Linked DNA regions of Homo sapiens. The protein of the gene in region 2 purifies or fractionates together with the protein of the main gene of each other region. This does not show direct contact. Each region holds a gene or a part of one and is shown on either strand. Other genes may lie near its edges.

Region 1 (4,488 bases), on a different chromosome or scaffold from region 2:
TATTGTTACAATAATTATTCTACTTTAGTAGTTACTGCTGTTCAGAAGTCTCTTACTGTGCCTAATTTCTAAATTAAACTTTATCATAGGTATGTATGTACAAGAAAAAACACAGTATATATAGGATTCGGTACTATTTGCAGTTTCAGGCACCCACTGGAGGTCTTGAATCATATCCTCACTGACAAGGGGGACTAGTGTATCTCCTGATTGAACTTTCTTAGAGAAAACACCTTATGTGAAAACTACATAAGGAAATTAATCCTTCAAGGAGTCAAAAAGCCCTATTTCCTTTAAGACCCTCTAAATATGTTAGCTCTTCCCGAGTTCCTGAGCAACTACAGAGCTCTCTGCTTTCAGGCACTCCTCCCAGTCAGCTCTGAGTGTGTGAACAGTGAGTCCCTCAACAAGTTTACAGGTAAGCAGAAGTCACAGGGAATCAGCACGGAAAAAAAAATGCACTTTTCTGTCCCTAGCAACCCAGGTTCTAAGTTATATGATATGAGAGTAGTCTGTTCCTGCTTACTGCTGTTCTGGGGAAAGACAGCCAGGACTGACTACAAAGGGATCATTTTTCTCTCATGCCAGCTCCTAGAACTGCTGTGACAGCACCCACGTGGACTCAGGATTAGAGATGGTGAAGTCAGAGCAGGAAGAATGAAACGGGGCAGAAGCCACAGGAAGCCACCAGTGATCCGGCCTTCCATTTGGGGAAGCCACAGTGATCTGGCCTTCTACCTGGAGAAGTGACCAGTGATCTGGCCTTCTACCTGGAGAAGCCACCAGTGATCTGGCCTCCTACCTGGAGAAGCCACCAGTGATCTGAACTTCTACCTGGAGAAGCCACCAGTGATCTGGCCTTCCACCTGGAGAAGCTGGCCTTCCACCTGGAGAAGTGACCAGTGATCTGGCCTTCTACCTGGAGAAGCCACCAGTGATCTGAACTTCTACCTGGAGAAGCCACCAGTGATCTGAACTTCTATCTGGAGAAGCCACCAGTGATCTGAACTTCTACCTGGAGAAGCCACCAGTGATCTGGTCTTCCACCTGGAGAAGCTGGCCTTCCACCTGGAGAAGTGACCAGAGATCTGGCCTTCTACCTGGAGAAGTGACCAGTGATCTGACCTTCTACCTGGAGAAGCCACCAGTGATCTGACCTTCTACCTGGAGAAGCTGGCCTTCCACCTGGAGAAGCGACCAGTGATCTGGCCTTCCACCTGAAGAAGCTGGCCTTCCACCTGGAGAAGTGACCAGTGATCTGGCCTTCCACCTGGGAGTGCCACCAGTGACCTGGTCTTCCACCTGGAGAAGCCACCAGGGATCTGGCCTTTCACCTGGAGAAGCCACCAGTGACCTCGTCTTCCACCTGGGATCTGCTCCAATTCTACCGAGTGTCTGTATAGAGAAATTTCACCTCTGATTACCTGCCAGCAGCAGATGTTAGATAAATCATGTAACATGCTGTAGCTGCTCCAGTTGCTAAGGTGAAAGACTGTCAGGGGCTAAAGAAGCCATGTCCAACCCTTTCACTGCAACAAGTGTTTTGCTTATCCACAGTGGTGAATACCAAAAACATTATGCACAGGACCTTTTTATTAGCTTGTCAACTGTCATTAGTGCTAGTGTATTTTATGTGTGGCCCAAGAGTTTCTGGCCCAGGGACACCAAAAGGTTGGACACCCCTGGGCTAAACCTTCTACAGTGGCTTGGCCAGGGACAGAGCCTCACAAAACTGTGCCACAATATTTTGTTATCAGCTTCAAGGTCAAGGCTAATATATTGTTAAGGGAGGATCTGGGCTTGGCCTTCAGGGCTGGGAACCAGGGCGGTTCTGAGGCCACCCTTCAGGGCTCTCTGCAGCAGTGAAGCGATCCTCCGGAACCCCCACCCCACCCCGTTCCTTGGTGTCGGCCCCACACTTCTACTCACAGGGAACAGCCCTGAGCATAGCAGACCCCCTAAAGGGTACCCATGCCTTACGGGGACTATCTGATCATGAACACACTGAATAAAATACCTGGCAATGGTCTTCTGCCCTGAGAACTCTGCAGTCTGTCCTCATCTGGGGGTTTCACTGCTATGTACTTGTTTGCTTTCTCAAAACTCTGTCGGCGTGGCCAACCAAGGAAACCGCTGTCACGTCCATTTCTCGAGAGGCAGCCCCCTGACGCCCCTCGCCACAGGGAGACCATGAGGTCACTGGGCACCTGCCTTCTTGACCCATTTTAAGTCTAGTTTTCAAGCCAACATCCTGCCCCAGGATCAGCATCATGAATAATCACTGTTGTCCTCTGTGACCCTGTGGAGAAATCTCTCATGACCAACCTGAGAGCGCCTGGCTCCTGTCAGAGTCTAGGGACCATCAACCACAGCTGCAGCTACGGGGGGGTGGCAGCTGGAAATCACGTAAACAGGGTTATATTCTGATCCCTGGCTTCCTTCAGATGGGTCTTGTGGCCTGGTGACTCTTTCAGACACACTGCATACCTAGTTACCATAATATCAAGAATCATAACTTAAAAGCATGTTGGTATTTTGATCATCTCATCTTAGAATAAGCCTCAACTGACCCCTGGTCCTGCTCTCTCATGATTGGCCACGCTGGCCGATGATATTCTGGAGAGACAGACCCTGGCTTATATCCAATTAAGAATTAAGTGAGGACTGGGGAAGAACAAGGATGGGTCAGTGCTTGGAATTAGACATTTCTAAGGGCGCTTTTGCTGAGGTTTTGGGGTTTGTTTTTTTGTTCTTTTGCTATTGTTTTTCATTTGCTTTTTTAAAGCCCACCACAGACAACTCCTTTAAAACTTTTCCAGGCTAAGATTCCTCCAGCCTCGCTCTCTGGCAGGGAATGCTGCAGCCTTGGTCTCCTAACAGCCCATATGTCAGGGGATCCCAAACAGTGCCCCAAGGAAGCCTGGGGTGTCTGAGAGCTGTCCCTTGGCCCACCGCAGTGTAGGAGAGGGGCCACAGGGCCAGGTTCCCTGACTGTCACCCCAGACTTGGTGAGCTCATCCTTCCCAAGACGACTGTCGAAGACGCGGGTCTGCTTCTTACTGTAACACCCAATGGCCAACACAGCACCGTGGGCACACCTGCTGCCTCATCTCCACGTTCTGAGCTATTGTTATTCTGAAGGATAATCTGAGAGGTACATAGTCCATTCACACCTCTAAGTCTCCTAAATTCTATCACTGGATCCAAAAGTCCCAGGGGAGTGCTCCCTGTCTGCTCAGCATTCCTTCAGTATTCACTCACAAGACTGTTCACCCTCTGAACTTGCACCGCGAGCCATTAGAAGACACGGCGGGAAGAAACGCGCATCATTATCCACTGTAGGGATGGGTGAAGGAGGTATTCCTAGTGAGGGTCTAAAGAAGAAATTTCTCTCAGGTCTCAGTGTCAGAAAAAGCTGGGCCTCTTCGGAAAACCCACTGGCCTTAATCATATGTCCCAGGGGCCCTGTGTCTGCTGAGCAGCTCAGAGCCACGAGGGGCCTCTCCCACAGCTAGGTGCGACCACAGAACTGTGTGCACGGGCTCTGTCCTCATCTGACCCTGCTGCGCTCTTCTGCCGCCCTGACTTCTCCTCACCCAGATTCCTTCAGCTACTTCATCCGTGTATATTGGATATACTTTCCTGCCTGTTTCAAATTTTCCACACTAAAAGGCAAGCAGGCAGGAGGGGGCAGGGGTGTGGGTTTCTAAGGACAGACAAATAGGAGAGCTGAAGCCCAGCTGCCTGATCTTCAGGCAAAATACAGTTAATTGTTCAACGAGTTTATGAAAGGATGCTGGGTTCTCATTTTGAATTCCTTTCTTCCTTCAGTAATTGAAGGACAAACTTCAACAGCCTAAACATCCCTGTGATGGGCAGCAAACATCCCACTGCATTCAGCAGGCAGTTGCTGTGTTAAAGACACTGAGCTACAGACGCGAAGAAAACATCACGGTGAGCCCTGCGGAGCGGACTGCAGCCCCGGGCACTAGAGCTCACTGCAGACTACAGCCCGGACACTGGGGCTCACTACAGACTACAGCCCGGGCACTAGAGCTCACTACAGACTGCAGCCCCGGGCACTAGAGCTCACTACAGACTACAGCCCGGACACTGGGGCTCACTGCAGACTACAGCCCGGACACTGGGGCTCACTGCAGACTACAGCCCGGGCACTAGAGCTCACTGCAGACTACAGCCCGGGCACTAGAGCTCACTGCAGACTGCAGCCCGGACACTGGGGCTCACTGCAGACTACAGCCCAGGCACTAGAGCTCACTACAGACTACAGCCCGGGCACTAGAGCTCACTGCAGACTACAGCCCGGGCGCTGGGGCTCACTACAGACTGCAGCCCAGGCACTAGAGCTCACTGCAGACTACAGCCCAGACACTGGGGCTCACTGCAGACTACAGCCCAGGCACTAGAGCTCACTACAGACTACAGCCCCGGGCACTAGAGCTCACTGCAGACTACAGCCCCGGGCGC
Region 2 (4,684 bases):
GAAGACTTACAGGGAAGGATTTTTATCAGGGGGAGGCAGATTTCAATTTAAACCAAGAAGTGGGTTGAGGGGAATATTCCAAAGAGCATAAGAGATCTCATGTTTTCCAGGAGGGTCAATATTAAGTGAGGGTACAGCTAAGATTTGCTACCATAATCAGATCCTTCCATCTTTTCCTGACTCTTTGCTTAACATATGCCCATTTATTTATCGTTTTTCTCATTGTGAATAACCAAAGGAAATGGCAATGTGTAATTCGAATATTAGGATATAAACTTTGGGAGAAAACTGGATATTAAAGTCTATTAAAATTATTTTAAAGTCCAACCCAAGATATAGCATTACAATAGCGAGTTGTTTCCAGTAATCAATAGAAAATAAGTGGAGGTGCATAATGACCCAGAGAGAATCTTCCCCAGGAACTGAGGTCCAGAGATGTATGACTGGATATTTTAACCTACTGGATCATAAGATTAGAAACATTTAATTGTATATTGTTCCTTTTAAGTAGACTGGTTACTATTCTCCAAGACCTTTGTTATGTCTTTAATGGATGAGATACTTGCTATTTTACTTGCTCATGTTGTATGAAAAATTGACATAGGTGGAAGGCCCATGCTACCCTCAGTACAGGTAAACCTGTAGTAGTAATACCATGGTTACAACAATGATGACAATAATTGCCATAGCACTGTAGAAAGGCACAATACAGACATCTAAATATAAAGTAATGAGAGTAGGGTAGTGACTTTAAAAAATATGAAGTGACCTATTGCTATCAATATACTTACAAGGAAGAAATCCTTGTAAAATACAGAAGTAGCCAAAGAGATAGAAGACATAATAGAAACATATTTCTTAACAATTTTTAACTCTTGGTTACCATTTGATTGTGATAACCAAGGAGGGGGCACAATCCAGCAAACTAAACATCTGTAGATAACAAAAAACTAAAAATCTCTTGTATTTACAAAGGGCCAGAAAACCTACAGAACATGCTTCCCTCTCAAGGGATTCTAATCCCAATTAAATGGTTCATATAGTTATAGTGAAGAGTTTGCATTTTAAATATTTTTGACAGTACTTTAATCTAATTTTTAAATTTTTCTCATTTTATGTAAATAACATGTTTTAATTTATTTTTACTCAGCCTTAGGATGAAGGATTTCCTATCATTTTATGAAGAAAATCAATAATTTCATTGACAGAAACTAGCTATGTTTTGTCAAGTAAGGTTTACCAAATATTCTATGTTTTATGGCTTGTGGTATACCTTTAGGTTCACCTACTTCCTATAGGGACGCATATGGTGGCACTTACCGGGTCTGCCTAGCTGCTCTCTATCATGTCTTAATATTGGTGACTAAGCACTTTTCTGTAAAATGTAACCAAAATGTTGAGATGTTTTTCTTTTCTCAGTACTTCTAAAGACAAATTGACATAGAGGGGAAAAAGAGACTCACAAGTTTTTGGCAGATAAATTTTTTATCTCCAAAAGTCATAAGTACAAAATGGAGTGACAAAGATTTTCACATTTTGTGCATTTCTTTGGTCACCTTTCAGCAGTTAGATAAATTACTCTTCACTTATGATTTTTGTGTGAACCTCCCTGCTCTTCACCCTCAGCTTGTTGACCTGGGACTCAGCAATGTCAGCCCGTTCCTCGGCCTCCTCCAGCTCGTGCTGGATCCTGCGGAATTTGGAGAGGTTGACGTTGGATTGTTCCTCCTGTGAATGGAAATCCATTTATGAGGGAAGAAAGTTCAGAATTTTTCCATTCTTAGGTCAGTGGATCTTGAATTTCCTTTTTACTTAAAAATGATTCACTCTAGCAGATATTTTAAGAAACCTAGAGAAATGCTCTTGAATTTTTATTTTTTTTTATTTTTGCATTAGCTTCTTGAACTCATAGATAACAAGGAAGGACAGGTGACCTTTGTATCTGAACTTTTAGAACAGCAGAACATCCTAGAGCTACTACTAAATATGCCAGGTGTCCAGCTTTGTTTTTTTTTTTGTTTGTTTGTTTGTTTTTTTCAGAATCCTGAGAATGGAACCAAACCTTTTAAGAGTGCAAGTATGCAATCTATACCAAACCAAACCATTAAGCTTGAATATAAGTTATTGCCATGTGAGTATAAATTATTGCCACTTAAGTTTAGAAATTAAGCAAGAAGTTTGTTTCCTAAAATAGTCTGAGCTGTCTCTGATTATACTTAAATATATAGCAGAGAATTTGAGCAGGTCAGTTCTAGTTTAGTCTCTGGTAATCATTCTTATTTAAAAGTCTCAGTAAGAACCTCCAAAATGTGGCATTCAAATTTAGAACAGACATAAAGCTTAGAATCATTAAATAGTATAGCTTGAGAAAAAACCTCAGCTTTTCCTCTTACAGATGAGGAAAGTAGGAACTGGAGAAAGATTAAGCAATTTGTCCGAGGTATGGACAGTAGCGTGTGTGTGTGTCCGTGCACACAAGTGTGTTTGTTTTCTCTCCCTCCCTCATTCCCCTCCATTCCCATCTTTCTCTCTCTCTTACCTTAGATGTCAGGGGTAAAATAAAAACCATCAATGAACAGAGGAACTCATTTGTGATATGTAACTATGAATATTTATATGTAGGAAGTTGAAACTATTTGATTATTAATCCAGATGAATCATGGGATACGGAAATGAGATAAAGTGGAGTGTTAAGAATCTACTGATTTGAACATAACCAAGACCTTCTGAGTTTCAGAATCTTATATTTAACTATTTACTTGACATGTTCACTTGTGTATATATGGTATTATGTATCTAAAACAGAATTCCTGTTTCTTTCTTGCCCTGCAATTCTGTTCTTCCCTTTGTTCCCCACTTAAGTGTTACATCATCCACTTGGTTACTCAAACCATAAACTTGATAAATTACTCTTAATTGCCTTTCTTTCATCTCCCAAGTGCAACCTATTAGCAATCTTGTAGTTTCTACCTCCAAAATATGTCCTGAATTTCTCCACTTCTCTCTGCTCCACTCTCTTATCCAAGCCACAGAACCGACCTGAAAAGCTTCCTAACATGTCTCTCTGCACCCACTTGTGTTACCCAGTAACCGATTCTTTACATAGTATCCCAAATGCTCTTTTTAAAAAATATAGATCAGGTAGTGACTGACCCACATTAAAACCCTCCCTGGCTTCCCAGTACCTTATTGTTCTTACCATGGCCTGGAAGACCCTATGAGCTGCCTCCTGCCTGGCTCTCCAGTCCCAGTTGTGGTGCTTTCCTCCTTTTTTTGTCTGCTTCTTGAGCCAGACTCTTTCCCACTCAAAAGCTTTGCATTTGCTCTTCCCCATCTCTAGAACATCTTCTGCTGGCTTGTCAGGTGGTTGGTTTTACCTCAGCCTTGGACCTCCATGTAGCCATTTGTTTTCTTTTGATCCTTCCTCATTTTACTCATCTTTTCTTTTGTCACTTTAACTAAACTGGCCTGGTCATGTCTGAGAAAAATCACCCCAAGGGGTTGTGAACTCACCGCTTCTTCAGCTTGTCTCTTGTAGGATTTCACCTTTGCTTGCAGTTTGTCCACCAGGTCCTGGAGCCTGAGAATATTCTTGCGGTCTTCCTCAGTCTGAAATAATGTTTTCAAGAGTAAGTTTCTTGAAAGTACAAATATTACATTTTGTCATACATATGACTTTTAATCCCATGTGGACTAAAGTGAAAACCTAGACAGGCCATTTTCCTTACTTGGTAAGTGAGTTCCTTCACTTTTCTCTCATGTTTGCGTAGACCCTTGACAGCTTCAACATTGCGCTTCTGTTCACTTTCAACTTCACCTTCAAGTTCACGAACCTACAAGAAGATGGACATTTTAAGGACATTCATTTGACGAATTTCTACTTCTTCACATGACCCACATACTTCTTCTACTCTGCTTTATATGTAGTTTTTAATGCCCTAGTTCAGTTTTCCTTATTATGAGCTTTTGGGCATGAGGGAATAGCTCTCCCTCATCTCAGTATGCCCCACATCATCTAGCAGTGCTAGGTATTCAGAATCGTGTGTTGGATTGGAATGAGATAGAAATACATGCTGATTAGGAGACCCACCCTGGCCTCCAGTTTCTGGATCTGCTTCTTCCCACCCTTCAGGGCCAGCTGCTCAGCCTCATCCAGACGATGCTGCAGGTCCTTCACCGTCTGTTCCAGGTTCTTCTTCATCCGCTCCAGATGGGCGCTGGTGTCCTGTTCCTTCTTCAGCTCCTCAGCCATCATGGCAGCCTAATTAGCAGTAAAACAGAATGGGTTAAGACAGCTAAGACAGCACATTAAGATTTAAGTTTGACCACCACTGTGTTACCCTTCACTCACATCAGTGATGGCCTTCTTGGCCTTCTCTTCTGCATTGCGGGCTTCCTGGATGATGTCTTCCATCTCTCCCTGGATTTGGGAAATGTCTGTCTCCAGCTTCTTCTTGGTGTTGATCAGGCTGGTGTTCTGTTTAAAATGTGAAATTTAGAAATATTAGGCACATGAGAGAAAAATTAGGAAACCTCATGTTCTAATGAACCATAAACTAATTAACTAAATGAATTCATTAATATTCCTCCTTGTTTCATAAATTATCTGAGTTGACATATGTTTAAAAGACAATCAACTGGCCGGGCGCGGTGGCTCATGCTTGTAATCCCAGCACTTTGGGAG
Region 3 (4,488 bases), on a different chromosome or scaffold from region 2:
AAAGGTGGTAATCAAACGTGGGTTTCTCTCCTTCTTTCTACACATTTCACATCTACCTACTTCACTCAAATAGATCTAAGACCACAATAAAGAAATTCTGCAAATGGAAAACGTGACAGAGGAAAAGCAGTCCTTAATGTTGAGCCCACTTGAGCAGGGTGAAATAACTCTTAGATATACAGATATACTCACTGCGAGGACAGTAATCCTCATCACCAGAGACTGTGTGGTCTTTGCAGTGATGGTTGAATCGGTAGTCAATGCTGTCATGTACCCAGCCTTTTTCAATGAATAATCCTGGAACTTCATCTGAGAAGAGCCAGTATCTACAAATCACAACCAGTATTAATAAGACAGTGAATAGATCAGGATTGCAGGATGATTTTACTGCTGGAGAAGATAATACAGAGTATCACTGAGCATTCAAAACCACAGTTTACAGAATTCTTCCTCTTCAGAACTCTAGACAGATAAAAATTGCAAGGTAAATCAAAGTATACGAGAAATGTTGAAACTGGAGACTAGCTTAATGTTCGTAATTTGTATAATTTCTTTCTTTTTTAAATTGAAATGGGGTCTCGCTATGTTGGCCGGGCTGGTCTTGAACTCCTGGCCTCAAGCAATCCTCTCGACTCAGCCTCCCAAAGTGTAGGATTACAGGTGTGAACCACCACGCCCAGCCCTAATTTGTGTAACTACTAATATTTCTCCTTTAGGTTTCACAAAATGTATGTATTTAAAACCTACTGCCATTTTTAAAGACTTGGATTACATTTCACCTATCACCATCATGTAAGCTTCCTACTTGTGGTATATGCAAGGGCAGGAATATGTCTTACTTAACTTTGCAACTCTAGCATTTGGCAGTTAATATTCAATAATCATCAACAATTCTGTTTCCAAAAAGAATTGGAAAACTGAAGAGAGAAGCTTGTCTATTCTTGTACTTTAGAAAATTTTCCTAACTAATAGCAATGTAAATAGTCCTAAAGAAAACAAAAATTTGGTTTAGGAACTGACCTATTATGGTTTCGATCTGTGCCAATAGGAGTCCTGCGCATGACTAGTTTGGCCTTGGCAATCCCTTCCTGGAAAGCTTTCTCAGCAGCTGCTTTGTGCTTCCGTATTCGTTCTTCTTCAGCTTGGCGTTCCAGTTTCACTGTTAAAAATAAAAAGACTCAAATCAGATATTTTCCTAGTAAATCCCACTCTTACAAATTAAATAAAATATGGAGTAAAAAGTGCCTAGTATACAGTAGTTATCAAATCTTAGTTTGCTTTCTCTAATTCTAATCTGTTACAAGAAATTACATGTAAGGCAGCAACATCTAGTCCTCCTACACTCCTTGAATTTGTGGTGACATCTCATCCCTCAACTCAATGCAAAATCTTTTATCTCCAAAATATCACTTCTTTTTGTTTTTGTTTTGAGGCAGAGTCTTGCTCTGTCACCCAGGGTGGAGTGCAGTGGTGCGATCTCGGCTCACTGCAACCTCTGCCTCCTGGGTTCAAGCAATTCTCCCGCCTCAGCCTCCTGTGTCGCTGGACTACAGGCACACACCACCGTGTCCAGCTAATTTTTACATTTTTAGTAGAGACGGGGTTTCCCCATGTTGTCCAGGCTGGTCTCGAACTCCTGACCTCAACTGATCCACCCGTCTCGGCCCCTCAAAGTGCTGGGATTATAGGCGTGAGCCACCACACCCAGCCAAAATATCACTTCTTAATATATTTTAAACAATCCTGAAGAAACAGTTAACAGTCCATAAATAGGACTAACTGAAACATCTTCTGACAGGTGCACCTACAGGATCCTCAAAAAGATCACGATAAATCAAACTAGTAAAATAACTATTTCAAAATAAAACATATTTCAGTCCTGAGGAATCTGACAGTAATTTGGCTTAATAGCCCTGATGACAAGAAAACAAACCTGAAAAGCAACAGCAGGGACGCACTTGTGGATAATAATTATTTTACATTGAACACCTATTTTTCTAATTATTCTGCAAGTTACTGTTAATGATAAAAATTTTATTTCTGATCATTCATTAATTAGGTTTATTCAGTTAGAAATTTCCCTCAACAAAAGCAGCCCGCTAATTTTGTTAAGTTTTTCCATAATTGTCACAAACCTTGACACCATAGGGTACATGGCAATGCTATTTACAATGTCACAATTTTTAAGAAGTGTTTATTATTTTTTTAGAGATAGGGTCTTACTATGTTTGCCCAAGCTGGTCTCAAACTTCTGGGCTCAAGCGATCCTCCTGCCTCGGCCTCTCAAAATGCTGGGATTAGAGATGTGAGCCACTGCACTCAGCCCCAATAATTTTTAACCCTGATTGTCTATTGACAATAACATCTACAATAAGATGTAAATCTGGAAAATGCATCTGTCTAAAGATGTTACTTTAAAAACTTAAGATAAATTCCATTTATTTAAAACATGGAATTTGTTACCTTTGATAAACAGTTTTCTAGCCCAAGTGAAACTGTGTATTTGTAACAATGGTTATAGTAGAAAATAGCACAAAGGTAAATGATTAAAAAAAAAAAAAAGCGAGAGAGTGAGTGATGGCCCAATTACAATCAAGGAAAAGTTCAGTCTCCCAAGACTACAAACAAACATAAACCAACTTAGGACAAGTCACCAAAGGAAGACCAAATTCTGTCTCAGAGGTTACAGCACTGAACTAGTTATCCAAAGACCTGAACTCTAATCCAAATACTGATCTTGGTAAAACACTAATATTCTGTCTCTTGTTTCCATACAAATAACAGAGTATCATCTTCTTTTCCTTCTCTTAAGATAAATATAAAACACAGTGGAGCAGTCCAAAAATGCAAGAAGAAATTATTACGTTTCAGATAAAATAGAGCTGAAGGTTTTAACCTACATTCTGCTTCATCTGGAACACAGTTATACTTTTTTTTTTTTTCTTTTTTTTGAGACAGAGTTTCTCTCGTGTTGTCCAGGCTGGAGTGCAATGGTATGATCTCGCCTCACCGCAACCTCCGCCTGCCGGGTTCAAGTGATTCTCCTGCCTCAGTCTACCGAGTAGCTGGGATTACAGGCATGTGTCACCACGCCCGGCTAATTTTGTATTTTTAGTAGAGACAAGGTTTCTTCATGTTGGTCAGGCTGGTCTTGAACTCCCAACCTCAGGTGATCCGCCCACCTCAGCCTCCCCAAGTGCTGGGATTGTAGGTGTTGAGCCACTGCGCCCGGCCGCAGTTATACTTTCTTGATAGGTATTGTTTTGTTTTGAGACGGAGTCTCACCCTGTCACCCAGTCTGGAGTGCAACGGCATGATCTCGGCTCACTGCAACCTCTGCCTCCCAGGTTCAAGCGATTCTCCTGCCGCAGCCTCCCAAGTAGCTGGGATTACAGGCGTGTGCCACCACAGCCAGCTAATTTATTTATTTATTTATTTATTTATTTATTTTGAGATGGAGTCTCGCTCTATCATCAGGCTGGAGTGCAGTGGTGTGATCTCGGCTCTCTGCAACCTCCAACTCCCTGGTTCAAGCGATTATCCTGTCTCAGCTTCCCGAGTAGCTGGAATTATAGGCCGAGTAGCTGGAATTACAGGCACCACCACACCCAGCTGATCTTTTTTTTTTTTTAAAAAAGACAAGAGTCTCGCTCTGTCCCCCAGGCTGGAGTACGGTGGCCGATCTTGGCTCACTGCAACCTCAGACTCCCTGGTTCAAGCAATTCTCCTGCCTCAGCATCCTGAGTAGCTGGGATTACAGGCATGCGCCACCATGCCAGGCTAATTTTTGTATTTTTAGTAGAGACAGGGTTTCACCGTGTTGGCCAGAATGGTCTTGATCTCCTGACCTCGTGATCTGCCTGCCTCAGCCTCCCGAAGTGTAGGATTACAGGCTGTGAGCCACCGAGCCTGGCCTGTTCATATGTCTTTAAAATGTTAATACAATGGCCAGGGGCGGTGGCTCATGCCTTTAATCCCAGCAATTTGGCAAGTTGAGGCAGGCAGTTCATTTGAGGTCAGAGTTTTGGGACCAGCCTAACCAACATGGTGAATCCCCATCTCTACTAAAAATACAAAAATTAGCTGAGTGTGGTAGCAGATGCCTTGTTATCCCAGCTACTCAGGAGGCTGAGGCACGAGAATAGCTTGAACCTGGGAGGTGGAGGTTGCAGTGAGCCAGATCGCACCATTGCACTCCAGCCTGAGCGACAGAGCGACGCTCTGTATCCAAAAAAATAAATAAAATGGAAAGTACACATTACATATGTATACTCAGGCACAGTATGCATACATATGCAAAAATATTTCAATGGCCTTAAGTAGTGTAAACTAAAATTTGTTTTAAAAGGAATATACATTTTCTAATGAAAGAACTATTCAAGCCGGGGTTTGGTGGCTCAGGCCTGTAATCCCAGCACTTTAGGAGGCTGAAGCAGGAAGATTGCTTGAGTTTAGGGGTTCAATACCAGCCTCCACAAATAATAAAAA

Evidence for each region. Proteins that work in one complex are often made in the same cells at the same time.
Region 1: the proteins of MYH1 (region 2) and ACTR3B purify together in Homo sapiens (co-immunoprecipitation; one large-scale study listed by IntAct). This does not show direct contact.
Region 3: the proteins of MYH1 (region 2) and BAZ1B purify together in Homo sapiens (co-immunoprecipitation; one study listed by IntAct). This does not show direct contact.

Annotation. Positions count from the first base shown.
Region 1 is NC_000007.14:152,846,733-152,851,220, reverse strand, and holds part of ACTR3B (actin-related protein 3B), read right to left. Parts: intron 1-4,488. UniProt on the Homo sapiens protein: Plays a role in the organization of the actin cytoskeleton.
Region 2 is NC_000017.11:10,490,841-10,495,524, forward strand, and holds the end of MYH1 (myosin-1), read right to left. Parts: intron 4,478-4,684; coding exon 4,352-4,477; intron 4,262-4,351; coding exon 4,091-4,261; intron 3,834-4,090; coding exon 3,729-3,833; intron 3,610-3,728; coding exon 3,514-3,609; intron 1,729-3,513; coding exon 1,576-1,728; 3' UTR 1,467-1,575; downstream 1-1,466. UniProt on the Homo sapiens protein: Required for normal hearing. It plays a role in cochlear amplification of auditory stimuli, likely through the positive regulation of prestin (SLC26A5) activity and outer hair cell (OHC) electromotility.
Region 3 is NC_000007.14:73,469,325-73,473,812, forward strand, and holds part of BAZ1B (tyrosine-protein kinase BAZ1B), read right to left. Parts: intron 1,160-4,488; coding exon 1,021-1,159; intron 327-1,020; coding exon 193-326; intron 1-192. UniProt on the Homo sapiens protein: Atypical tyrosine-protein kinase that plays a central role in chromatin remodeling and acts as a transcription regulator. Involved in DNA damage response by phosphorylating 'Tyr-142' of histone H2AX (H2AXY142ph).